Homo sapiens: one gene and its partners. The protein of the gene in region 5 purifies or fractionates together with the protein of the main gene of each other region. This does not show direct contact. Each region holds a gene or a part of one and is shown on either strand. Other genes may lie near its edges. The genes, in order: FBXO38, IFFO1, MRPL45, CENPB, ZNF331, CEP78 and CTTNBP2NL.

The links.
Region 1: the proteins of ZNF331 (region 5) and FBXO38 purify together in Homo sapiens (affinity purification with mass spectrometry; 2 studies listed by BioGRID and IntAct, with this or other methods). This does not show direct contact.
Region 2: the proteins of ZNF331 (region 5) and IFFO1 purify together in Homo sapiens (affinity purification with mass spectrometry; 2 studies listed by BioGRID and IntAct, with this or other methods). This does not show direct contact.
Region 3: the proteins of ZNF331 (region 5) and MRPL45 purify together in Homo sapiens (affinity purification with mass spectrometry, with the first as the bait; one large-scale study listed by BioGRID). This does not show direct contact.
Region 4: the proteins of ZNF331 (region 5) and CENPB purify together in Homo sapiens (affinity purification with mass spectrometry; 2 studies listed by BioGRID and IntAct, with this or other methods). This does not show direct contact.
Region 6: the proteins of ZNF331 (region 5) and CEP78 purify together in Homo sapiens (co-immunoprecipitation; 3 studies listed by BioGRID and IntAct, with this or other methods). This does not show direct contact.
Region 7: the proteins of ZNF331 (region 5) and CTTNBP2NL purify together in Homo sapiens (affinity purification with mass spectrometry; 2 studies listed by BioGRID and IntAct, with this or other methods). This does not show direct contact.

What each region holds. Positions count from the first base shown.
Region 1 is NC_000005.10:148,425,458-148,428,957, reverse strand, and holds part of FBXO38 (F-box only protein 38), read right to left. Parts: intron 3,437-3,500; coding exon 3,257-3,436; intron 1,746-3,256; coding exon 1,011-1,745; intron 1-1,010. UniProt on the Homo sapiens protein: Substrate recognition component of a SCF (SKP1-CUL1-F-box protein) E3 ubiquitin-protein ligase complex which mediates the ubiquitination and subsequent proteasomal degradation of PDCD1/PD-1, thereby regulating T-cells-mediated immunity.
Region 2 is NC_000012.12:6,549,543-6,553,042, forward strand, and holds part of IFFO1 (non-homologous end joining factor IFFO1), read right to left. Parts: intron 1,962-3,500; exon of another isoform or gene 1,856-1,961; intron 1,460-1,855; coding exon 1,399-1,459; intron 1,249-1,398; coding exon 1,153-1,248; intron 355-1,152; coding exon 214-354; intron 1-213. UniProt on the Homo sapiens protein: Nuclear matrix protein involved in the immobilization of broken DNA ends and the suppression of chromosome translocation during DNA double-strand breaks (DSBs).
Region 3 is NC_000017.11:38,296,040-38,299,967, forward strand, and holds the start of MRPL45 (large ribosomal subunit protein mL45), read left to right. Parts: upstream 1-1,128; 5' UTR 1,129-1,144; coding exon 1,145-1,210; intron 1,211-2,409; coding exon 2,410-2,587; intron 2,588-3,311; coding exon 3,312-3,429; intron 3,430-3,928.
Region 4 is NC_000020.11:3,783,941-3,788,225, reverse strand, and holds the start of CENPB (major centromere autoantigen B), read left to right. Parts: upstream 1-1,485; 5' UTR 1,486-1,742; coding exon 1,743-3,542; 3' UTR 3,543-4,285. UniProt on the Homo sapiens protein: Interacts with centromeric heterochromatin in chromosomes and binds to a specific 17 bp subset of alphoid satellite DNA, called the CENP-B box.
Region 5 is NC_000019.10:53,536,677-53,540,944, reverse strand, and holds the start of ZNF331 (zinc finger protein 331), read right to left. Parts: upstream 2,801-4,268; 5' UTR 2,649-2,800; exon of another isoform or gene 1,993-2,648; intron 1,730-1,992; 5' UTR 1,663-1,729; intron 1-1,662. UniProt on the Homo sapiens protein: May be involved in transcriptional regulation. May play a role in spermatogenesis.
Region 6 is NC_000009.12:78,260,075-78,263,574, forward strand, and holds part of CEP78 (centrosomal protein of 78 kDa), read left to right. Parts: intron 1-2,832; coding exon 2,833-2,910; intron 2,911-3,500. UniProt on the Homo sapiens protein: Centriole wall protein that localizes to mature centrioles and regulates centriole and cilia biogenesis. Involved in centrosome duplication: required for efficient PLK4 centrosomal localization and PLK4-induced overduplication of centrioles.
Region 7 is NC_000001.11:112,451,714-112,455,213, forward strand, and holds part of CTTNBP2NL (CTTNBP2 N-terminal-like protein), read left to right. Parts: intron 1-2,735; coding exon 2,736-2,843; intron 2,844-3,500. UniProt on the Homo sapiens protein: Regulates lamellipodial actin dynamics in a CTTN-dependent manner. Associates with core striatin-interacting phosphatase and kinase (STRIPAK) complex to form CTTNBP2NL-STRIPAK complexes.

The DNA of each region.
Region 1 (3,500 bases), on a different chromosome or scaffold from region 5:
TCAAACATTTACAATTTAAGCTGGGAAAAGTACTTTCACCATATGGCAGAACCACTGTTTGCAAAGCATAAAAAAGTCTTCAAATAAAACTCATATATTTCAATGAGTTTATGCAACTATGGTAACTAGCACATAACTAAGGTCTCAAATGTATCTCATGAAAGCTTACTTTTGTTCTGTTTAGCTCTGTATGAATCCATTAGTTCTATTTTGAATATACAAAAAGCACTGACTGCCTATGTTCTGGGACTGATTTTAAGATTTTAAAACTGAGGGCTACTTGAAGAAAATTAAAATACATTATTATCACTGTCAGGCAGTAATGATATAATAAAGGCAGGAAAGAGTACTTAAAAATAAGGTCAGAAACAGTAACAGACTTATGATTAATAAATATGCTTACACCCAATCCATGGCTACACATTATAAACATTAATGAAATTAAATACACATATATGTTTTGAGTATTTTCACCAAAATAATTCTCAGCCAAACCATTTACTTACCTGCTTATCTCCTGGCAAATCTTACTTGAAGCAAAACTAGATTTCTGAAAAAATTACTAAGTACTGCAGAGACAGAAAGAGGGGTATACACAGGAAGCTGCACTGAGATGTGTTCCCCCAGCCCCAGCAACGTCAAGTCCTTGCCTTTTGGCTGAGTTTAAAACTTTCCTAAGTTAAGACTTCTCTAAGTGTGTGATGGCAGCAGAGTTCATCTACTGGGGCTTAGGTGTCAGTCAGTGTTATATTTAGGGTAAATATACACAATGACATTTTCCTTAAAAGCTGAACTATTTTGAGCTTTCCAGGTTGGACATTTTATAAACTGTTTTACACACCCACCCTCCAAACCATTGCTGAAATTAGTTCAAAATTCACATGACCCACAAAACCCCAAAATAGAATTTAATTTGCCAAACTGGCTTTTTGTAAGAAAACTCATGAAACAAGTTCATGCCTTTCTGCAGCCCTACCCTGCAGTTGCTAATCCTAGGAGCATTGTCATACCTGACTCAGATACCAGCAGTACATGGGACAGTCTGCTCCTGGCCCTGGTTAGGGGCCTCCGAGGGTAGTCTTCATTAGACTGCACGTCACAACTCTCAGGCTGGGAGCTCCCCCTCCTGTCCTCACCTGTAGCCCCAGAGCCACTCCCATTAGTCCTCTCATCATGTGCTGGGCCTGAAGACCCCCCTTGTGGCAGAGTCCTAAAGGAAAAGGCGGATCTCGTACCATCCGGGCCATTCACAACACAGGCTCGGCTGGTTGAAGGACGTTCCTCATCAGAACACCTGCTAGTTCTCCTTTGGGATTCCTGGGGCCTGTGACAGCAGCATCTGGGGCAGACAGAACTCTCTGCATCTCCCTCCTCCATGGCCTCAGAGTCCTCTGACCCACCGGGGGAGCAGGCACACTGCCTGGACACATCCACTTCTGTAGGGCTAGGCTCGGAAGAGCCGCCGCTGTTCACCGTCCTTACAAAGTCGGGGCTTTGAGAAGCAGTGTTGTGTGAGCTGGAGTTTCCCACTGTGCTGGCGGTGGTGCTGCTGCAGCTGGGATAAACATCCTTGTTTTTTTTCTTTTCAGGAATATCCCTAGCTGCTTTCATATCGGCTTTGATCTGCTCACTGGTGACCTGACAGCCTTTCTCACAGCTGCTTTCCTCGAGGGGAAACTGCTTCGACTGGCCCATCTGATGGGAGTTGTACCTCTTTCGAAGTGGAGTCTTGCCTTTTCCACTTACTGCTTATAGAAAAAGAAGAACGGCCCGAGGAAAAGAAAAGATTTCAGTATAAATTCTGGACAAAACGCAAGAGTAAATTTGGAACAGGAAATAATGTATACTAAACACTAATTTTCCTAAAGTATAACTGTGATCACATCACTGAGCTGCTATAAAATTCTCTATGGCTCCCTAGTGTCTATCTGGTTTATACTCCTTAGCTATGCCTTCAAACCTCACTATGATCTGATTCCAAACCATCTTTCCATGTCGTACCCTCCATATACATTCTACATTCCAGCTCCAGCTTTTCTCTCAAAATACCCCTGCTTTACTACCTCAGGGGCTTTGTTCTCACCAATTTGTCAGCTGTGGTCCTCCCTGGTCCTCTACTCCATCTCTTCTGCACCCCCACCCCAAAGCAACTGTAGTTGTAGTATATGCCCTGTAATATTACTACCTATTGTTTTTGACATGACTCTTCAACTAGACTAGAACTTCTGTAAAGACAGACCATGACTTACTCATCTCTGTATCCCTCACAGTGCCTAACACAGTACCTGGGGCATAGTAAGGCTCAATGAAGATATAAAGGAATAAATAGGTTTTGTCTGGCCAACAGAGGATTTAGTTGCTAAATTTAGAAACTGCACTGTCTGGGAAGGTAGGTTAGTCAGCTGGTCATATTACTTTTCCTAAATTTCAGTTTCCATAAAACCTTCTTTCAACCACATTATAAAGTTATCTGAATTTCTTAAAAGAAATAAAAATTGAATAATGAGTCAATGATTAGCAAATTATTTCAAGTCCAAAGAACTAAACTTTCCAGATAATAGTACTACATAAATGTTCCAGGGTCAGTGTTAAATGTGTTTTGAACATTCAAAAATATTAAGGAGTAAGGGTACCCAAGGAAAAATGACTGCACAATTTGCAAAATATCCATCTTTTGCTAAAAGTGGTAAGCACGTGGTTCTGCGAAACCAAAGGGAAGGAAAGACAAGGAAGAAGTATGAACTTCAAAGTTAAGAGAGAAGTACAGTTTCTTGGTGAGGCACTGCAGAGGGTTGTTGCCTAGATTTAAAGGGATGTGAGGGATTATAAAAATATGCTTTAGGACTCCTTCCAGCACCAAACTAGCCACCAATATTCATTAAGCACAACTGGACAGATTATCAACTGGGGAATGGTTGCTTTTCATTGCTCTGGATGACTCAGCAGTCATCCCTTACATAAGGCACAGGCTTTTCGCTCACTAATCTCTGACACCCTGATGCCACAACTGAAGCCTCCACTGTAGACTTATAATCCTTACTTCTCTTCTTCCCTGAGCCCTCATTCCACAACACTGTTGTGTTGTATTGCCTACAAGAGCACCACCCAGATTTCCCTTACTTGGGCAAGTGCATTTCTTGCTTCCTGTCACATTCCGTAATATATGTTAACTGCACCCAAGTTGTCATATTAAGGCCAAGTGTGTCAGTTCTGATAGTGACTCTCATTAATAGTTCAGAGAAAGACAATTTCTCACCTGACAATTCTCTGGACTGCACTGACTCTCCAGTTTTTTCTTCACGTTCAGAGTAACGCCGAGTACCGTTCTTAGGAATCCAGACTTCTTGGAGTTCTAGACTATCTTCTTCATCATCACTCTCTGAATCATGAACAGTAATTGAGGTTGGTTTTACTACACGCTGAAGACCACTGGGTCCTTAAAAAAAAGCACAGGCCTAACAGTTACTTTTTGCGCAAGAAAGGATCTAATGCAAAGTACT
Region 2 (3,500 bases), on a different chromosome or scaffold from region 5:
GAGAGAGGGGGAAGGGAGAGACGGCGTTAGAGACAGCTTCCACGATGCCCCTCCTGATGCTGCTCCTTACCCCCCAGTCTAGCCCCGTGAGGGCCCCAGTTGCCAGGTAAGGCTCCCCAAGCAGGAGGCAGGGCCTGCGTTCCAGGCCAGCCGCCACGGAAGCATCCACCTGCCCCACCCACCCCTGAGAGCAGAGGGCAGCTCCGTCCTCACCTGGAACATCTGGATCATGTCCTCGCAGTTGCGCTGCTGAGCCACATCGCAGAGCTTGGCGGTGATGTCGATGCGGCGGCAGATGTCCATATCCACCTTCATGGCTTTCTCCTGGATCTTGGTGTCCAGCTCCGACAGGTTCTGTCCAGGGAGCCCAGGGAACAGTGAGGAGGCGCCCAGTTCTCCAGACAAGGACGAATTAGGCCTGGCAAGGTCCTCATCCTTCCCACCACATTGCACCGGTGCCTCTTCTGTGGAGTCTCCCTGAGCTGACTGCACCCCTCTTCCTGGGTAGCGGTGGCCTCCCCACAGCACTGTGTGAATATGCTGGGCATGGGGCGGCTCGGGCCACTGCTCCCTGGCCAAACGGAAGCCCTGGAGGGCATGGCCAGTGCCTGGGACATGCAGGGGGCTCACTGGAACGACTAGCGGTCCTCATCCTCCTAGAACTTACATTCCCAGAGAGAAAGAGACTCCTGGGAATTATAAGAGTGGAGAAAGGACTATAATAATCGCAACAGCTAACACTCTTCCAGCTAACACTGCATGCTGGGCACTGTCCCGAGTACATGACCACCCTCACAATACTCCTGCAGAGCGCACGCGTTTATTTCCCCACGCCAAAGGTGAGGCCTCAGAGGCTGAGGAATCGGCCCAGCGCCCCGGCGCCAGCTGCAGAGCCTCCACCCCAGAAGCTGCTCACTAACTGCTCTGCAACCCCAGGCCCTCAGAAGCTGCGCCACCTCTGTGACGCAACACCGAGACTTTTGTTGCTTGTCTTTCTCTGGAGTTAGGGGTGGCTAGGGGAAAAAGGGAAGGAAAGCAAAGAGAAGGGGAGGAGCCGTGGACGGGAGGCCAACAGGCCAACACTAGAAGGGCCTACTCTTCTGGCCTCAGAAGCCTCACTTCGACCCTCGGGAAGCCTGGGGCTGCACTCACGTTACTCATGAGCCCCTTGAAGACCACCAGCTCAGCCTTCAACTGTTCCACCTTCAGTGCCAGCTCCTCCTGGCAGGCATCAGCCTCCTGGGCTTCCTGCAGTTGGGAGAAACCCTGATGTTGGTGGCACTGCCGAGGTGGGAGGAAGATAAAGATGCCAAGGAGGGACAGGGAGACGGCAGCAGGGTCATGGGCAGACAGGGGTACCCAGGGAAGCACCAGCAGCAAGTGGGGCGCCACCCTCACCTCCTGGAGCTCATTTACACGGTCTTGCAGCTGGATCCGCACCGTGTACTCCTCTTCCCACCTGACAGACATGGGAAGGGCGGAGAGAGCTTAGGTACAGAGTCCTTCCCTGCCCCCATGGCTCCCTGTCCCCACCTCTCTGGCTCAGGCCTCAGACCCCAGTTCTGGTTCCCTGGATGGGGAGGAGCAGGGCACAGGAATGCCTGGCCAGCCAGCTGGTGACCAACTGCAGCTGTCACGCGGCTCTGTGCTTCCTGATGGGCGTCGAGCTCGCCAGCTGCCTTCCCGGAACCTCCGGGCTGTGCACCAGGAGCTCTGTTTGGGCAAGTGCTGAGGCTCCGGTCCTCCGTGATGCCCATCCCTGCTCAGGCCCCAGCTCAGCCAGCTGTCCGGCTGGCCTCATTGCCCACCTCCTGCCCACACCAGACCACCAGGTCCACCCGGCCCAGTCTCCCACCTTCAGTCGCACAGATCCGGGCTCCCGCCTCCTGCCCGCACCAGAACAGAGCTCGTCGAGCCCGCTGCCCTGCCTCTTGTGGTATCATTTAACCCTGTAAAAGCATCTGCAGGACACATAGTGTATCAACAGAGTGGGTCAAGAGCCTGGTAGGAGACACTCAAAGTCCTTCCCCACTAGCTCCAGAAACTACCCACCCAGAGCCTCCTCTAAGGGAGTCACAGAGAGGTGACCAGACTGGCTCAGAGGCCGGAAGTCCCACAGCAGCATGACAGCAGTGGACACACGAGCCTGGGGTTACTAGCACTCAAACCCAGAGGGAAAGAGAAAGTAGAGTATGTAAAGGGGCCCGGTGAGTACGGCAAATGAGAACTAGACACAGCCTGTTCCAGGGCCCAGAATTCAGAGATTAAGACTGCAAGTGGGCCGGACGACACCCTGGGCCACAGGGCAGGGTCCTAGGTAGGGCATGCTTCCCAGAGCCAGCTTTGTCATGTCTCATCAGCCATGGCAGGCAGTGCATATTCTATTCCATCACAGAGATGGAAGCCAGGGCAACGTGCTGCTTAGGACCCGCCCGGCATTCCAGGGCCCTGCAGTCTAGCTGGCGTAGCAGCACATCTCAAATCCTGTTCCTGTGAGCTCATCACTTCTGTCAACCCGAGAAGGGAGGGGAACTGCACCAAGAGAGAAACTTCAACACAAGAAAGGTGGTTAGGAAGGGGCCAAGAAGACAGCAAGAAAATTAAAATCTGAGTGGGCAGCTTCTGAAGCCTTGGGTGAAGCCCTTTCTTCCCCTTCCCTCCATCTTCCTTCCTGTGTCAGCCTCTGGGTCCCATCTCCTCATTCACAGCCGCACTGCAGTATTCCTAATAATAACTCCTCCACATCACCTCGACTGCCCCTCCCTGCTGGGCAGAGCAGGAGGAGGCAGCCAGCCCAGCCACCACCCTGCTGGCTCCCCACACAGCCCAGCTCCCAGCCTTCCTGGCTCCCAGCCCCCTTCCCTGTGTGTCCCGTAGGTGCTTCTCCCCTCCTCCCTGGCATTCTCATGCATACAGTCAGGCCACTAAGGGAACCAGTCGCATCAGATTATGTTTTCTTAGCTAAGACCCTTATCTTTTCTGGGTCTTGGTTTCTTCATCTATGATGTGAAGGCATGAACTGTGGTGCCCTCATGCGCCGGGAGCCCACGAGTCCCTGGAGGGAGACAGTAAGCCTGTCAAGGGCACGCTAACCCTGGACAAGATGTGTGAAAGAGGGCAGGAGGGGCTATCTGACAGTGAGCTCAACAGAGCCTGGAAGAAACTTAAGTAAGGCAGTTATAGCTAAAGGTTAAGCCTAAGGAAATCTTACAGGGTAAAAAAAATCTACAAATGAATCATCTGGAAGCCCACTACAGTTCTATTTGTTCTTTGGCCAGACTTCACACAGACAGGTTCATTTTCACCTCCATTTCCATCTGGTCTCACTTATAAGGTTCCCTTAACATGGGCAGAATTTGAGAGCGATATCCATGTGTTCTGCATGGACCAAATATCTCTCTTCCAAAAAACTGTATCCCTGGGTTGAAGAGAGAAAGCAGGGACCATTCCTATGTTGGGAAAATGGGGGCTCAAAAAAAGGTCACGCACAAGGCAGGGGA
Region 3 (3,928 bases), on a different chromosome or scaffold from region 5:
TTTACACTACTGAATTTACCAGGGTGATCCCAACATCACGAATCCTTTAACAACTTAACATGAAGCAGCACGTAGCAGTTACCTGCATGGGTTCTGGAATTAGACTGCTTAGATTCAAATCTCGGTTCTGCCAGTTATCATCTATCTAACCTTAAGTAAATTACGTAATTGCTCTGTGACTCCTTTCCGAAATGACAAATCACAAATGTTTTTGTCAATTCACGTGTCTTCTGCTTTAGTAAACATAGTAGAAGACAGTAGTCAATCTCTTTTTTTGTTTTTTTTTGAGACAAAGTCTTTCTCTGTCACCGACGCTGGAGTGCAGTGGCGGGATCTCGGATCACTGCAGCCTCCGCCTCCTGTGTTCGAGGGATTCTCCTGCCTTAGCCTCCCAAGTAGCTCAGACTACAGCCGCCTGCCACCAAGCCCGGCGCTCTCTTGCTGGCGCATGACAACCGTGCGTTCCACCCTACGACTAATTTTTTTTTTTTTTTTTTAGACGGAGTCTAGCTCTGGCTGGAGTCAGTGGCGCGATCTCGGCTCACTGCAACCTCTGCCTCCTGGGTTCAAGCGATTCTCCTGCCTCAGCCTTACAAGCAGCTGGGACTACAGGCGTGTGCCACCACGCCCGGCTAATTTTTGTATTTTTAGTAGAGACGGGGTTTCGTCATTTTGGCCAGGCTGGTCTCGAACTCCTGACTTCAGGTGATCCACCGGTCTCGGCCTCCCAAAGTGCTGGGATTACAGGCGTGAGCCACCGCGCCCGGCCTCCTTTTCCTTTTTTAACTAATGGAATAAACGGCAATGTGCCAAGCATACAGCAATGCCCATTCCCCGGCCTTCAGAAAGCCTCGGGCGCAGGCGCAGCTCGCGTTCAAGCGCTCTCTCGCTGGCGGGGGACAACAGTTCGTTCCACCCTACGCCCAACGTTGTCTCCCTGCGCACGCGCGGCCGTACTCCGCCCTCCTTACTCCACCCTCCCCCACTCCCGCGAGCACGTGCGCGTCCTCGCTGCTCACATTTCGGCGGAGGGCGCGCTCCCTGGAAAATTCCACTCCTGTGCTAGCTCCACCCTATGCGGCTTTTCTCCTACCCGACGCTCTTCACTCTCAGCTCCCTTCCCGGCGGCCTTTGCGGGAACAAGATGGCAGCCCCCATACCTCAAGGGTTCTCTTGTTTATCGAGGTTTTTGGGCTGGTGGTCTCGGCAGGTGGGTAGGGACGGGGCCGATAGGACCCTAGGGGCTACAGGAGAGGACAGAGTCGAGGGAAATACTCTCTGTGCAATTGTCCTTGGTGAGCTGGGACAATACGAGTCATACCTAGGCCGGGGAAGAGGCTTAGGTGGACAGGACCTAGCTGCGGAGCTCAGTGGTCGAATGGGGATAGCCTAGACAGGGCCATGAGAGCGAGTGAATTAACGGATATTAAGTTTTTCCGGATTGGTTTGGGTCTGTCTGGCGAGGAGATATTAAAGGAGAGACAAGTAATGGGTTGGAAGGTGGACTCCCTAATCTTCGATTCTTATAAGTGAACTACGTTGAAGAGTAGCCGAAAATGAGGGCGTCCCATATTGTCACTGCCCCGTCTGAGCAAACCTCATGATCAGAGAGAAAAGATCTCCTGATCTTTCGAGGGTTTATTGGTCAGTTGGGTGCTAAAACGACAGAATAAAGTTTACAGCGAGACTCCCGATAGGATGAGCAAAATATCACGAGTACATATGGAGCAGATGCCTACAAGAGGACTTTGCTTATGCTTTAAGCATAGCATTCAGGGCCCGGCGCGGTGGTTCACACTTGTAATCCCAGCACTTTGAAAGTCCGAGGCAGAAGGATGGCTTGAGCCCAGGAGTTCGAAATGAGCCTGGGCAACATATAAGACCTGGTCTTTACAAAAAAATTTTAAAATTAGCCAGATGCGATGGCGCACTCCTTAGTCCCAGCTACTTGGGAGGCTGCGGTGGGAGGATAGCTAGAGCCCAGGAGGTCAAGGCTGCAGTGAACCGTGATCGTGCCATCGCACTCTAGGCTAGCGATCTGCCTCAAAAAATAATAAAGAATAGTATTCTGCCCATTTCAGTATTGAGTTGGTGTTTCCCCATCACCATCAGTTTTTGAAACTTGCTTTGATCAACTCAGTATCCGTAGGAGTTAGCATAGTCCTGTACTGTGGGAAGTTCTAAAGGAAAGCCTTTAGTAAATGTGATGTTAATAAAGGTTGCTAACTGTCTTCTATTTAGAGACACCCATAAGTATTAAGGTCCTAATGCATTTTTTCCCTGTGATATTGTTTTATAATTGTTCCTGAAGCATTCTTTGGATATTCCCTCTCTATAGTGCTTTGCTTAGAGTTTGTAAAAGATAGTAGATCTTTTTTCTAGGTTCCTAACCTTTCCTTTACCTTCCAGCCAGTTCTGGTGACTCAGTCCGCAGCTATAGTTCCAGTAAGAACTAAAAAACGTTTCACACCTCCTATTTATCAACCTAAATTTAAAACAGAAAAGGAGTTTATGCAACATGCCCGGAAAGCAGGATTGGTTATTCCTCCAGAAAAATCGGACCGTTCCATACATCTGGCCTGTACAGGTGAGGTATTTCTGGGACCCTGACCTGGGATCCTTCTGTCAGAGATCTTCTGGAACTTGGGATGACTTGGACTATGATTGATAATATTTAATTAAGCACGAAGTCAGTTCAACCTCAATAATGATTAACCTTATATACACTATATATCATGAAGTTGTTCTTTGAACTTACTTTCACACTGTCCCTAGAAGGCAAGAGTGAAATTTCTCCATTTTGTGGAAGTAGAAACTGAGGCTCTGAGAGAAGACTTAAATCTTTCTGGCTTTTTTTGTTTTGTTTTGTTTTGTTTTTTGAGACAGAGTCTCGTTCTGTCGCCCAGTGGCACAATCTGGGCTCACTGCAACCTCTGCCCCCCTGGGTTCAAGCGATTCTCCTACCTCAGCCTTCCAAGTAGCTGGGATTACAGGCACCTGCCACCATGCCCGGCTAATTTTTGTATTTTTAGTAGAGATGGGGTTTCACCATCTTGGCCAGGCTGGTCTTGAATTCCTGACTTTGTGATCCGCCCGCCTCGGCCTCCCAAAGTACTGGGATTACAGGTGTGAGCCACTGTGCCCGGCCTTGTTTTGTTTTTTTCTAGTGTAACATAGTTCTCTCTACATGGAAGTCTGTTTCATTAGTCTACTTCATATCCACAATCCTTCCCAATTTTACATTACTTCAATTTTATGAGTTTTTCTCAATCTTTCAACACTTTCTTAATTTTTTTCTTCCTTTATTACAGCTGGTATATTTGATGCCTATGTTCCTCCTGAGGGTGATGCACGCATATCATCTCTTTCAAAGGAGGGACTGATAGAGAGAACTGAACGAATGAAGAAGACTATGGCATCACAAGTGTCGTAGGTGTCTGAGACAATTGGGTATTGGTATTAGAATAACAATTTTTTGTTGCTACTTTATCCCAAAGAGACCTTTTTGGGTTAATTGGGTTGGGTGTCATTCTCTTAATAACATGATGGTATTTTCTCCTTTGTACTAGAGTCTGTATTTAATGCAGAATAATGTGGGCTTCCTGATTCTCAGCATCCCTGCCTTTATTGGTAATTTTTGTCATATCAGTTAGGGAGTTGACTTTGGAGTGTATAGGATCCTTTTTTAATCATATATTTAATTTTTTTTTTTTTGAGATGGAGTTTCGCTCTTGTTGCCCAGACTAGAATGCAATGGCACGATCTTGGCTCACCGCAACCTCCGCCTCCTGGATTCAAATGATCCTCCTGCCTCAGCCTCCTGAGTAGCTGGGATTACAGGCATGTGCCACCATGCCCGGCTAATTTTGTATTTTTAGTAGAGATGTGGTTTCTCCATGTTGGTCTGTTGGTCAGGCTGGTCTTGAAC
Region 4 (4,285 bases), on a different chromosome or scaffold from region 5:
CACAGTAGCCTGGTTTTTCTCCTGCTTCAGGGGCTCCTCCACTTCAAGAGTCTCTATTTGGTTCTTTCTTTCTTTCTTTCTTTTTTTTTGAGATGGAGTCTCACTCTTTTGCCCAGGCTGGAGTGCAGTGGCATGATCTTGGCTCCCTGCAACCTCTGCCTCCCAGGCTCAAGCGATTCTCCTGCCTCAGCCTCCCGAATAGCTGGGACTACAGGTGAGTGCCACCACACTTGGCTAATTTTTTGTATTTTTAGTAGAGACGGAGTTTCACTATATTGGCCAGGCTGGTCTTGAACTCCTGATCTCAAGTGGTCCCGCCTGCTTCGGCCTCCTAAAGTGCTGGGATTACAGACGTGAGCCACTGCACCTGGCCTCTTTCTTGAGCCCTTAACCTTGGAGGACCCAGGGCACTGTCCTTGGTCCTCTTTTCTTCTTTGTCTACACTCACCCACAGCTTCATCCAGCCCCAGGTCCTCAGCCTGTCCCCCTGGGTCACAGCCTTCCCCTCTGCCAATGCTGGAGTTCCCCTTAGTGCTGCCCTAAGAGATTTTTAAAAACACAGCTATACATTCATTGTTTTAAGAGCTTGGCATTTTAATGTTTTGCTGCAGGAGAGGGAGGCTTCAGGGATTCACACTTATGTATATACATGATGTTATTTCTGTAAGTGCAAACACATACATTTATGGCTATATGCATGGAAAAGCCCAGAAAGTGACACACCAAGATGTTATGAGTGTTTATCTATGGGTTGTGGGATTACTAGAACTTTAAAAATGTCATTAGCACCATCAAATAGATTTACAACTGTAATGCTGATTTTAAAAATAACTTAAGTGTGTAACAATAGGTTACATACGCTAGTGTTCATTCATAGCTGGAATGCTACACAATCATTAAAAAGCGTGTTGGCAATGATACTTACCGATATGGCAAAATTCTCACTACTTGATGCCAGGTAAAACAGCAGGAGATGCCAGATATACAGTCTATACAGTCTGATGCCAGTTTTATATAATAAATTTTTAAAAAGAAAACGACATGCATCTAGAGAAAAGACTGGAAGGAAATGTATCAAAATGTTACCTGTGCATCTCTCCAGGTGACGTGAAAAGCGTTTTTCAACTTCTTGAATTTTTCAGGTTCCGCAAAAAAAAAAGTGCGTTATTTTTACCTTAATTAAAAAAAAAAAAAACAAACAAAAACCCTGGTTCTTATTCTTTTTGAGCAGCAAGTCGCTGTCCGCCGGGCGCAGTAGCGATGCACCGCGTCCCCGCCCGCGTCGCTGCCGGGTCGCCGGAGGCCGCAGCACGGGCAGGTCCAGCAGGCCGCAGCGCCCCCCCGCGGTATGTCCCGGCGGCGGGAAGGGGGTGGGCGCGGAGGGCGGGGAGGAGGCGCCGGGCGTCCCCGCGCTTCCCGCGAGATCCCGCTCCGCCCGCTCCGCCCCGCTCGCCGCGCTCCCAGCTCCCCGCGCCGCGGCACTTCCTGCCTTCCGCGCCCGCGCCGCCCGCCCTCGTCTGCGCCCGTCGCCTGCCGCCCGCCGCCCGGCGACGCGCCCGCCGGCGTCCCCGGAGGTGCCCCCGGCCCGGCCGGGTCGTCGCCCCGCCGCCGCGCCCGCGAGCCGCTTTGTCTCGGGCGGGGCGCGCGGGAGAGGCCGCCAGGTGCCCCCCGCCACGGGCCCGGGCCCCCCGCCCCGGGGCGGCGGCGGCGGCGCCGGGCCCCGGGGCGGGGGGCGCGCCGGGATGGGCCCCAAGAGGCGACAGCTGACGTTCCGGGAGAAGTCACGGATCATCCAGGAGGTGGAGGAGAATCCGGACCTGCGCAAGGGCGAGATCGCGCGGCGCTTCAACATCCCGCCGTCCACGCTGAGCACGATCCTGAAGAACAAGCGCGCCATCCTGGCGTCGGAGCGCAAGTACGGGGTGGCCTCCACCTGCCGCAAGACCAACAAGCTGTCTCCCTACGACAAGCTCGAGGGCTTGCTCATCGCCTGGTTCCAGCAGATCCGCGCCGCCGGCCTGCCGGTCAAGGGCATCATCCTCAAGGAGAAGGCGCTGCGCATAGCCGAGGAGCTGGGCATGGACGACTTCACCGCCTCCAACGGCTGGCTGGACCGCTTCCGCCGGCGCCACGGCGTGGTGTCCTGCAGCGGCGTGGCCCGCGCCCGCGCGCGAAACGCTGCCCCCCGCACCCCGGCGGCGCCTGCCAGTCCGGCCGCGGTGCCCTCGGAGGGCAGTGGCGGGAGCACTACTGGTTGGCGCGCTCGGGAGGAGCAGCCGCCGTCGGTGGCCGAGGGCTACGCCTCGCAGGACGTGTTCAGCGCCACCGAGACCAGTCTATGGTACGACTTCCTGCCCGACCAGGCCGCGGGGCTGTGCGGAGGCGACGGACGGCCGCGTCAAGCCACCCAGCGCCTGAGCGTCCTGCTATGCGCCAATGCCGACGGCAGCGAGAAGCTGCCCCCGCTGGTGGCCGGCAAGTCGGCCAAGCCCCGCGCAGGCCAAGCCGGCCTGCCCTGCGACTACACCGCCAACTCCAAGGGTGGTGTCACCACCCAGGCCCTGGCCAAGTACTTGAAGGCCTTGGACACCCGAATGGCTGCAGAGTCTCGCCGGGTCCTGCTGTTGGCCGGCCGCTTGGCTGCCCAGTCCTTGGACACCTCGGGCCTGCGGCATGTGCAGCTGGCCTTCTTCCCTCCCGGCACCGTGCATCCGCTGGAGAGGGGAGTGGTCCAGCAGGTGAAGGGCCACTACCGCCAGGCCATGCTGCTCAAGGCCATGGCCGCGCTAGAGGGCCAGGATCCCTCAGGCCTGCAGCTGGGTCTCACGGAGGCCCTGCACTTTGTGGCTGCCGCCTGGCAGGCAGTGGAGCCTTCGGACATAGCCGCCTGCTTTCGTGAGGCTGGCTTTGGGGGTGGCCCTAATGCCACCATCACCACTTCCCTCAAGAGTGAGGGAGAGGAAGAGGAGGAGGAGGAGGAAGAAGAGGAGGAGGAAGAGGGTGAAGGAGAGGAAGAGGAGGAGGAAGGGGAGGAGGAGGAGGAGGAAGGGGGGGAAGGAGAGGAATTGGGGGAGGAAGAGGAGGTGGAGGAGGAGGGTGATGTTGATAGTGATGAAGAAGAGGAGGAAGATGAGGAGAGCTCCTCGGAGGGCTTGGAGGCTGAGGACTGGGCCCAGGGAGTAGTGGAGGCCGGTGGCAGCTTCGGGGCTTATGGTGCCCAGGAGGAAGCCCAGTGCCCTACTCTGCATTTCCTGGAAGGTGGGGAGGACTCTGATTCAGACAGTGAGGAAGAGGACGATGAGGAAGAGGATGATGAAGATGAAGACGACGATGATGATGAGGAGGATGGTGATGAGGTGCCTGTACCCAGCTTTGGGGAGGCCATGGCTTACTTTGCCATGGTCAAGAGGTACCTGACCTCCTTCCCCATTGATGACCGCGTGCAGAGCCACATCCTCCACTTGGAACACGATCTGGTTCATGTGACCAGGAAGAACCACGCCAGGCAGGCGGGAGTTCGAGGTCTTGGACATCAAAGCTGAGTCACTGGACCTAGCTGTGCCCCCAACCTAGATTGGCAGCACCACCCCAGGGCAGAGGACTCTCTGGGCACCCGCTGTGCATGGAGCCAGAGTGCAGAGCCCCAGATCCTTTAGTAATGCTTCCCCTGGTCCTGCAACAGGCCCGGTCACCTCGGCCGGGCCCGGGGCTGAGGTCAGCCTCACTGCCTGCTTATTGCCTCTTTCTCAGAATCCTCTTTCCTCCCCATTTGGCCCTGGGCTCAGGGGACCAGGTGGGGCGGGTGGGGAGCTGTCCGGTGCTACCACACCGTGCCCTCAGTGGACTAACCACAGCAGCAGCCAGGGATGGGCCCTGGAGGTTCCCGGCCGGAGAGTGCCTCTCCCCTCTGCCATCCACGTCAGGTCTTTGGTGGGGGGACCCCAAAGCCATTCTGGGAAGGGCTCCAGAAGAAGGTCCAGCCTAGGCCCCCTGCAAGGCTGGCAGCCCCCACCCCCACCCCCCAGGCCGCCTTGAGAAGCACAGTTTAACTCACTGCGGGCTCCTGAGCCTGCTTCTGCCTGCTTTCCACCTCCCCAGTCCCTTTCTCTGGCCCTGTCCATGTGACTTTGGCCCTTGGTTTTCTTTCCAGATTGGAGGTTTCCAAGAGGCCCCCCACCGTGGAAGTAACCAAGGGCGCTTCCTTGTGGGCAGCTGCAGGCCCCATGCCTCTCCTCCCTCTCTGGCAGGGCCCCATCCTGGGCAGAGGGGCCTGGGGCTGGGCCCA
Region 5 (4,268 bases):
TTACCTCAGCGGGCCTAATGTAATCACCAGGGTCCTCAAAATGAGAAGAGGGTGAGATGAACAGAAAGAAGTAGGGTCAGAGTGACGTGATGGAAAAGGGACTTGGCCTGTCTTTGCAGCTTTGATGATGGAAGAAGGGGTCACAAACCAAGGCATGTGGGGCAGTGTCTAGAAGCCAGCAAAAGCAAGGACATAAAATACCTCCCACAGGGCAGGCTCGGTGGCTCACACCTGTAATCCCGCACTTTGGGAGGCTGAGGCCGGCTAATTAATCACCTGAGGTCAGGAGTTCGAGACCAGCCTGATCAACAAGGAGAAACCCTGTTTCCACTAAAAATACAAAAATTAGCTGCGGATGGTGACATGTGCCTGTAATCCCAGCTACTCGGGAGGCTGAGGCGGGAGAATCACTTGAATCTGGGAGGTGGAGGTTGCAGTGAGCCAAGATTGTGCCACTGCGCTCCAGCATGGGCAACAGAGCAAGCCTCCATCTCAATTACAGAAAAAAAAAGACTATCTCCTAGAGCCTCCAAGCACACACACCTCCTAGAGCTCTGCCAAAGAGCCTCCAAGCACACACATGTCCTCCGTGAGAGGACACAGCAAGATGGTGACAGTCTCCAACCTGGAAAAGGGCCCTCATCAGAACCTGACCATGCTGGTACCCTCTTCTCAGACTTCCAGCCTCCAGAACTGTGAGCAATAAATGTTTGTGGTTTCAGCCACCGGTCTATGGTACTTTGTTACAGACTAAGGTAAGAATAAATTAAGGAGTGTGTGCAAAACACAATAGAGTATGGTACAAAAATGCGCTCAATAAATGTGGCCAGGCTCCTCTCTTTTGAAGGATTCATGAATAATCCTAAATAATATACTAAAATGTCATGTTGGATAAGGTATTTACAAAAATCTTATTCAATGGAATTTGTAGGCAACTGAAGCATTTCCTTCATTTACTATTGTTAATAACTATTAGTAGTGTTTAATATTATGTCAGGTGCATTTTTCTTTCTTACGGTTATAACTAAACTTACTTCTTTGTAGCTGCAGAGTATTCCATGAAATGAACGTGGTATAATTACTTAACCATTTCCACCATCCTGAACAATAATTGTGGTCAAGGTACACAGCCTTCGATTGTAGACCAATGGGTCTAAATGTCTTTGGGGCATGTCCATCCTTCTTAATGCCATGAAATTACAGAGTATCTCCTTAGGGTGGTGGTGGTGGGGGACAGATACACTAACACTGATAATCACATACAGTAAATATACACAGAATGTCCCTTGGAAAGTTGTAAGTGGAGTTAAAGGCAGGCCCTCAGGTTAAGGATAACAGTTCTAGGCCATTTGAGGCTGTGGTTCATTTTGTGAACCTGCAAACACCCATCCCAGTTACCTTCATATGTACGTTGCTCCTGATGTACAGACATCCAGACTTAGCACAAAACAGCAGCACTCACTGTGCACTCCCACTCAGGGGTGCGCGTCTATGGGTTTTATGCGTGTTAATGCATTTCACCCTCCTCACAAGCCTATCTTCAGAAGGCTCAAAAAGCTAAGAGGCAGAAACAGGACTCAAATCTTGGTCATCTACCTTTAATGTTTGGTCTTAAGTCTTATAAACACATATCATTTAATATAAAAAAAAAAGGATACTCACCTGACCCTTTCAGATGTTTAACGATTCGTCTTCCTCCTCGGGGATGCTTTTTCTGAAGGATGCTGGCCTGGGGAAAACAGAACCGGAAGGGTAACACCTGCCATACCTAATAAAACCAATGAGAAATACGAGGCCCCGAGATGGAGTTTCTGGGAGATTCCTGAAGAGCACGCTGTGGCGATTGAGATGATGACGCGTGGAGCTGCCCCCCTCCCTGTCTCCCACATCAGGGACCTGTCCCTCTACAGGAGGAATTCTACTCCTGAGGCCACCGTCCCCTGTCACTCAGGTGGCCTGCATGCACAGCACTTCTGGCTCTGAAAGCGTCACCTCATGGCTGTTTCTGCCTTCTTGCTGGTGAATTTCCAGGCGAGGCTCAGGCGCTCACGTCCCTCCGCGGCCCTTGTTCTCAGGCAGGTACCGCTTGGTTAGGAGGTGAAGGCAGGGGAAGCAGCAGAGACGCTGGAGCTACAAGTTGCACTGTCACACACACCTGCATCACTCAGAAGGCCCGATCATCCATCCCAGCACAGAGACGCTGAAGCTACAGGTTGTGTTGTCACACACACCTGCGTCACCCAGAAGGCCCGATCACCCATCCCAGCACAAGTCTGCACAGCTCAGCCTCACCACAGCTCACTCTGTCCTGAGACACATCTGCGCCCCTCATACCCACTAACGCCCAGCACGGCCATGCTACGGGCCCCACCACCCCACACGGTGCAGAGGTGCATCCGTGGGCCACGGAGACCCGTCCCGACCGCTGCCCCCGCACAACCCCCAGAGCGCACCTCACGGAGCAGAGTCCCAGGGACGCACCGCCGAGGTTCACAGGCACGGGCTGCGTTGACCCAAAGCCTCTGGAGCACCCCCGGTCACCAGTTATGGGGAGAGCCCGGCTGTGTCACCCCACACTCTCCAGCAAGTGCGTCACCGTCAGAAGCCCCGTGCCCGTCTCCCCTCGGAGCCACGCGCACCAATCTCACCTGCGCGGACTGGCGGAGATGCAGCGGCTGCGTCACTGGTGCAAACGCGCACCCAGCACGGCCCCCATCGCCCCCAATGACGCTCGCGTGCACCCGTGTCACAGTTACGGGGACAGGGCCGCCGCGTCAGCCTCGTACTCCCACGCAAGTGCGTCACACACTCGGTCCCGCCACCCCCTGGAGGCCAGCGCGCATGCGCACGCGCACCCAGCGGCCGCAGCGCGCAGACAGCAGCAGAGCCCGACACGCATGTGCACACAGACCCCTACACGTATGTGCACGTACCCAGACCCCGACACGTATGTGAGCGTACACAGACCCCCGATACATAGCGTGCTCAGCTGTTGACGTGCCTGTGCGGGCACACAGACCCTGACGGGCGTGTGCGCACGCACAGATGCCGACACGCATGTGCAGACACAACAGAGCCCGACACACACGTGCGCCTGCACAGATGCTGACACGCGGACACACTGACACGTGTGCGTGCACCCCTCCCATCCCTTTCCCTCCTCCCACTCTCCCAAAGCCGCAGACGCACCCGGTAGTCCCCCAACGCTGGGGCCTCGGGAGAGGGTGAGGCTAGAAGAGGACGCGGGGCCGTCGGGGGAAACCAGAGCCCCAAGCCCCGTGTTCCAGCATGCAGCACGGCGTACTCCTGGATGGTCTCTGGGAAATGTAGTCCGGGACGGTCCCAGGCAGGGGCCTCAGGGCGCGTCCCAGGTCGGTGCCGGAGCGGGCAGCCCCAAGCTAAGCCCTTCCTGGTCCCTGCAGACGCCCCTTCCCGACTGGGAAAGGAGCTGTGTCACCCCAGCTGGGACCCCGTCTGGCCTCTTGAGTGGGGTGATGCCGGGCGAGCCATGGCTGTCCTCAGAAGGGTATCCTCTCCTAGCCCCTCTGGAGCGTCACCTGGAATTCTCTGCAGGCCGCTAGCACAGGCTGCCGGAGCTGCTATTCGGTGTCCCTTGCTTGCTGCATTGTAAACAATGTACAGGTAGCAGTTATGCCCCGTGAGTCCCGCTCTCATTCCAAGTACTAACGTCACAGGGTCTACAGGATGTTGCAGGTACTTAACCACAGTCTCATTTTGACTCAAAATCCCACTTTTTGGTATTTATGCCAAGGAAGTAGCTATAGTTGTACACAATGTTGAAGTATGTTCACAAAATGCTTTTTTTCTGAAAATCTTTTTCTCTTTTAATTAGATAGACTTTAGATTCATATGTAGTTACAAGAAATAAAATTGAGAGATCTTGTGTACCTTTCACCTGGTTACCTCAGCTGGTGATTGTAGTATATAATACCACAACCAGAAGATTAACATTGATGTAATCCACTGACGTTACCCAGAATTTCCAGAGAATAATTTTTTGTTTGTTTGTTTGTTTGTTTTGAGACGGAGTTTCGCTCTTGTTGCCCAGGCTCAAGTGCAATGGTGCGATCTCGGCTCACTGCAACCTCCGCCTCCTGGGTTCAAGGGGTTCTCCTGCGTCAGCCTCCCCAGTAGCTGGGATGACAGGCATGCGCTACCACGCCCGGCTAATTTTTTTTGTATTTTTAGAAGAGACGGGGTTTCTCTATGTTGGTCAGGCTGGACTCGAACTCCCGACCTCAGGTGAT
Region 6 (3,500 bases), on a different chromosome or scaffold from region 5:
TTTAAGTGGGAAGGTAAGTCAACAGAGTAGAGGTGATATATCCAAGTGATAGACTGTTTCATTGCCAGTAGCAGTATAAAATCTTAGAAATCTTTTGGAAAGCAATTTGGATGTAAGTATTGCAGAGCCTTAAAAATGTTTATTTGCTTTGACCTAAAATTCCTTTTTTATTTATTGCAAGAAAATTATTCTAAATATGGGAGAACAAAACCTTCATGCTTAAAAGTGGTTATTTTATCTTATAATGTTGAAAGTTGGAAACAGTCTTGTTAGCCATAAAGGAATGATTACATGAACCAGTAAGCTGGCTCAGTAGAATATTTTATTTAGCCCACTAAAAAAGTCAAAGTTGGCCAGGTGCGGTGGCTCACGCCTGTAATCCCAGCACTTTGGGAGGCCAAGGCAGGTGGATCATGAGTTCAGGAGATCGAGACCATCCTGGCTAACATGGTGAAACCCTGTCTCTACTAAAAATACAAAAAATTAGCTGTGCGTGGTGGCGGACACCTGTAGTCCCAGCTACTCAGGAGGCTGAAGCAGGAGAATGGTGTGAACCTGGGAGGTGGAGCTTGCAGTGAGCCGAGATCAGGCCACTGTACTCCAGCCTAGGCGACAGAGCGAGACTCCATCTCAAAAAAAAAAAAAAAAAAAGTCAGAGTTATGAGTTCTCTGATTCAGTGTTAAATGGAAGAATGTCTAACATAAAATTGGATATACAGTCTTCCCTCAGCATACTCGGGTTATTCCATGACCCCATCCTCCAGCATATACCCAAATCCATGCAGGCATGCTCAGGCCCCACAGTTGACCTGTGGAACCAGGGTATATAAAAAGTCAGTCCTCCTTATGAACTTTTGCGTTGGAGAATACTTGTTTTTGTTTGTTTGTTTGTTTTGAGATGGAGTCTCGCTCTGTTGCCAGGCTGGAGTGCAGTGGCGCAATCTCAGCTCACTGCAACCTCTGCCTCCCGGGTTCAAGTGATTCTCCTGCCTCCGCCTCCCGAGTAGCTGGGATTACAGGTGCGCACCACCACACCCAGCTAATTTTTATATTTTTAGTAGAGACGGGGTTTCACCATGTTGGCCTCAATTTCCTGACCTTGTGATCTGCCTGCCTCGGCCTCCCAAAGTGCTGGGATTACAGGCATGAGCCACCGTGCTCAGCCAGAATACTGTATTTTTGATCTGCATTTGGTTGAAAAAAATCTGCATATAATGGGCCTGCATACTTCAAGCCCTTGATATTCAAGGGTTGTTGTACAGGATAACATTTGATATTTCTGGGGTTGTGTTCCAGAAAAAATATAAACTTTTCCATGGGTAGAAGGGAGAAAGGGGAGCAGCTGTCAGGGAGGAAAATTACTACAACACTTTATCATTAGTCGTTTTTAAGTAGTGGAATGTTAAGTGATTTTACTTTCTAATTGTTTCATTTCATATTTCCTTATTTTCTTTAAGGAGCATGAATTACTCTTTAAAGGAGTAATGAGGAGGGAACTTTCATAAATATGTAACATTATGTTCTCACTTCCTCCACTAGAGGGAGAAACAATTTCATGTAATTGTGCTTTGATGTGATTTTTAGAACTAGTTAGGAATGGAGGATTTTATTCTTCTTTCTCCAATTGTGATAAGTTTTTTGCTTATTTCCATGTTTGGTTAGAAGTTCTTTGATAACAGTTCTAAATATTAAAACCATTATATAAATAATAAGTAGAGGAATTTTGCAATTTCTTTTTCCTTTTTCCCATAAAAACTTGGTTGGCTTTAACTGATAATGAAACATTAAAGAATTTGTAGTTATTAGGGCATTTACTGATTTTTCAAATGTGTTCTGAGTATAAAAATATATGCCCTTTGAGAAAATTTTTGAAAATCGTGAAAAACATTGAGGGAAATAAAAACCACCTCTGCATGGTACACACACCTGGATATTTTGTAATTTGCCCTTTTATCTTAAAAAGATATCAAAATATTTTGTCACATCATTGAATGCTCTTCCACATCAGAGAATCTTACTTAGCTTATGGACCATCTCCCAAGAAAAACGACCATTCATTAACTCTGGTTAAGACCCATATCATTGTTTTTAGTGGCTCCATAGAGCATTTCATCATAGGGATGTGCTATTTTTTTTTTTTTTTTTACCAATCACAATTTGGAGGCTTTTAGTTGTAAACAGTCCTGTGACATTATGTTGGTAGATAAATCTTTGTCCACATGTTTGGTGATTTCCTTAAGGTAAATTCCCAGACATTGAATTGGTAGTATTTACTAAAGATTACTCCAGAAAGTGGCACCAATTTCCTTTTCTAATGTAAGTGTATGGTAGAGTTCCTTCCCTCAACACTCTGGAGGAATTGGAGAATCTCCATCATGTCTAATTCCTTTTGTATTTCAATCTTTACCAGAAAGAGCCCTGTCCCTTTTAATTGGTTACTTGACTTTTAATTTGCTGTTACATAATTCAGGTGTGTTAAGTGTGTTAATAGGGCTTCCTATTATAAGGGATCCACAAATAAGAATAGAATTTCTTTTTCATAGCCTTAATTTTTATTTGACTCAATAAATATATGTGTATGCCTTCTATGGTGAGCTGTCATAAATTTATTTTGGAAAGAGTGGAAATAAATCTGTAATGTGCGAATCTGATGTTTTTGGTAATTAATTTCCCTAGCATGGTATGATATTATACAAGCAGTAGGCTATAATCCTGATATCTGAGTTCACTTCTGGCTCTGTCCCTAAACACTTGGTGAGCTCAACAGCTGGAAGAGTTTTGGGGATCATATTGGGAATTAATTATAATATTTACTTTATTACTTAATACTAGGAAAAACTGGAGGAGTGCCTAAAGCAGTTAAAGGAAGAAAGAGTGATAAGGCTTAAGGTTGATAAACGAGTCAGTGAGGTAAATAAAAGTTTTCTTACCTTTTGAGAGTTTTTTGTTTTGGTTTTGGTTTAACTTTAAGTCATACATACACACACTTTATAAACTTTAAAATGAGAAAATATAGTGTATTGCAAATGGTCACAGTATGTTAATGTTTGTATTTACTTATATTTGGTGACCGTGTGATCTGTATTCCAAAAAGCATGTTTTTTAAAAATGTAAAAATTGTAGTTTGTTTTCTTTTCCTCTGTTTTTATATGACTGGAGCTTATTTTCTGTTCATGATGCATCAATTCAAGAATGCATTTATTAGGCTTATACTGTATATACAATTGCGTAAAAGATGGGGATGAGACTATCTACTGAAGGGGAATTAGGAAAATGAATAAATAAGGTAAAAGATAATGGAAAACCGGTAAGAATGCAATGAAAGATAAAAATCTATACCATGAGGACTAAATTAGGTGAATGTGCATAAGAGCAGGGCATAAACTAGAAAGTTCTACATAACTATAATTTATTATTACAAAGCAAGTTTAAGGAGGAATTTTTGAAAGTATATGCATTGGTTTGAAAGACAGTTAATCATTCAATAAAGGTTGAGCACC
Region 7 (3,500 bases), on a different chromosome or scaffold from region 5:
GAGCTGAGATCACACCACTGTAATCCAGCTTGGGTGACAGAGCAAGACTGTCTCAAAAAAAAAAAAAAAAACACAAAACAAACAAACAAAAAAACAGGCTTTGAGCCAGTTCTCCTGTTTTCTATTCTACATTTCACCTCTCCTCTGCAGTACCTGCCACCTCCAGGTTCCATCTCTTTGGGGCTCTGCAAGGCAAAACAGCTTCCCTCCTTCAAAGTAAAGTAGTTACCACAACTCCAGCCTCTTTTCTTCTTCAAAATATTATTAAAATTTTTTCTCTGCTAGAGGCTCTCTCCTTTGTGGGGTTTTAGTCTTTTTATTCCATTTCTGTAATTTTTGAGGACTCCCAAAAGGGAGAAGATAAGACTTACCACTTTTGGCCAAAAGCATGTCTTTCTATTAAATTGAAAAATTAGATTAAAAAAAGGAAATGTGCCAAATTTTTTTTCTTTCATTTATTTTGAGAGACAGGGTCTCGCTGTGTTGCCTGGGCGGGAGTACAGTGGCTATTAACAGGTGCGATCATAGCACCCTATAGCCTGGAACTCTTGGGCTCCAGTGATCCACCTCAGCCTCCCTAGTATCTGGGACTACAAGCATACACCACAGCACCAGTCTCTTCTTTTTTTTTTTTTTTTTTTTTTTTTTTAGACAGAGTTTCACTCTTGTTGCTCAGGCTGGAGTGCAATGGCACAATCTTGGCTCACCACAACCTCTGCCTACTGGGTTCAAGCGATTCTCCTGCCTCAGCCTCCCGAGTAGCTGGGATTACAGGCATGTGCCACCATGCCTGGCTAATTTTGTATTTTTAGTAGAGACAGGGTTTCTCCATGTTGGTCAGGCTGGTCTCGAACTCCCAACCTCAGGTGATCCACCTGCTTTGGCCTCCCAAAGTGCTGAGATTACAGGCATGAGCCACCACTCCTGGCCTCTTTTTTTTTTTTTGAGACAAAGTCTCACTCCGTTGCCTGGGCTGGAGTGCAACGGCATAATCATGGCTCACTGCAACCTCGACCTCCCTGGGCTGAGGTGATCCTTCCACCTCAGCCTCCTGAGTAGCTGGGACTACATGCACACCTCACCATGCCTGGCTAATTTTTGTACTTTTTTGTAGAAATGGGGTTTTGGGTTGGGCACAGTGGGTCACACCTGTAATCCCATCACTTTGGGAAGCTGAGGCAGAAGGACCACTTGAGTCCAGGTGTTTGAGACCAGCCTGGGCAACATGGCGACACCCCATTTCTACAAAAAATCAGCAGGCCATAGTGGTGTATGCCTGTAGTCTCAGCTGCTCAGGAGGCTGAGGTGGGAGGATCACTTGAGCCTAGGAGGCAAAGATTGCAGTGAGCCGAGATGATGCCACTGCATTTCAGCTTGGGTGAGAGTAAGACCCTGTCTCCTCAAAAGGAAGGAAGGGGGTGGGGGAGGGAGAGGGAGAGGGAGAAATAAATGGCTGGTCTCAAACTCCTGTGCTCAAGCAATCCTCCTGCCTCTGCCTCCCAAAAGTGCTGGGATTACAGGCATGAGCTCATTTTTATTTTTATAGACAGGTTTCATGTCCCAGAAAATTTACTCTCTTCACTCATAAAAATTTTTAGTGAGAAGACTAAGAAATGGCCTTTGGGACAAGAGTGCTCTACCCTGGAGGTCTGGGCCAAGGCACTTCTGAAGCATGAGCAGAAGCTACTAAGCAATCAGAATATTTGCAGTTGTAGATGGGATTATGTGAAAAATGTCTCTTTAAATTTGTATTCTTGGCCATGTGTGATGGCTCACACCTGTAATCCCAGCATTTTGGGAGGCTGAGGCGGGTGGATCACTTGAGCCCAGGAGTTCCAGACCAGCCTGGGCAAGATGGCAAAACCCCATCTCTACAAAAAATACTAAAATCAGCTGGGCGTGGTGGCGCACACCTGTAGTCCCAGCTACTTGGGAGGCTGAGAGGTGGGAGAATCTCTTGAGCTCGGGAGGCCAAGGCAGCAGTGAGCCATGATTGCACTACTACAGTCCAGCCTGGGTGACAAAGCAAGACCCTGTCTCGAAAAATAAATATATTTGTCTTCTCCTTAAAATTGGGCTTAATCCTTTGGCACCAGGGTAAGTGAAATAGGGGTAGGCAAGTTAAATAAAAGGGCGTATGAAAAATCTCCATTTAAGGTCTCTATATTTGAGCCTTTTTACATGCAGTAGGAAGTCAAGAGAGTCTATCCACCTCTTATCTAACTATATAAAAATGTATATTATTAGTTAAACAAGGCACACTTAGAATGTCACCTATTTGAAATGTTGAATTTCAGGCTCCTTCTTTGGTGCCTCTGGTGATTTGAGAATTGAGAAGAAAATCTCAGCTTTCAGGTTTCTGTGGTCCTGTCTTGCTCCATCACCTACACCTGGCCCCTAGTAACACCAAACTGCCTGCAGTTTCTTGGAATTTCTGTTAATTCTCGACACCTCCTCAACCCCTCTAGCTAATTAGTTGCTCTCTTCTCTCTGTTTGCATATCATTCTCTACATACTTCAAGTAAAGTAAGTATCTTACTGTTTAACACAGAGCTTTCATGTCTTTCACTGTAAGGCAGTGTGCTCCTTGATAGCCCTTGCTGGGTTTCATTTATTCGTTTGTTTGTTTGATCTCTGGAACTATCTAAGGTGCCTGATTTGGCACTTATTATTGGTTGTATTAATAAATGTGACTCCTTGATATTTGAAAATGAAATTTAAAAAATTCTTTAAAGGTGATCCTAGACCTTGAGGAAGAAAGGCAGCGGCATGCACAGGATACGGCTGAAGGAGATGATGTCACCTACATGCTAGAGAAGGAAAGAGAGAGGCTGACTCAACAGGTAATTAAGGTAGAGGGATTCACAGTAGCATTTGCCTGGAACAGCATTTCCCAAAGATTATTCTGCAGGATGCCAACTGGTATTGTTCAGAAAAGGGGCTTTGTGGTCAAATAAGTTTAGGAACTACTGGATTAAGCAAAGTTAAACAGGTTTCTAACTTTGTTAGGATCTTTAGTATGCAGAAGCACATTGTGAGTCTTCAAGAACAAGATAGGGTATTCTGTGTTTAGCAAATCCATGGTTTTATAAAATCTTTTATTGGCATAGATCCCTCACTGTGGGATTATTATTGTTCCGTAGAACACTCTTTGGGGAATGGTAACTTAGCGCTTGTAGCTCTCAAACTTTTGACTTAGAACCCCCAGTAAGAAGTGACATTTTATGTCACAACCCAGTATATGTAGACATACACAGTTACGCCTGAAACAAAAATCTCATGAAATCATATATAACCCCTACTGCTACAGTACACATTGATGTTTTCTGTTTATATATTTTTTTAAAATTCTAGTCGTGGCTCAGTTAGTTTCCCCATCCATTAATGGATCTCAGAGTTTGAAAAACACTGAGTTTCTTCAACCCTTTCCCTCTCACGCAGAGTCTCTGCCTCAAATAGGGTTGGGAAGACAATTAAAACAGGCTATATTTGTGTAAAAA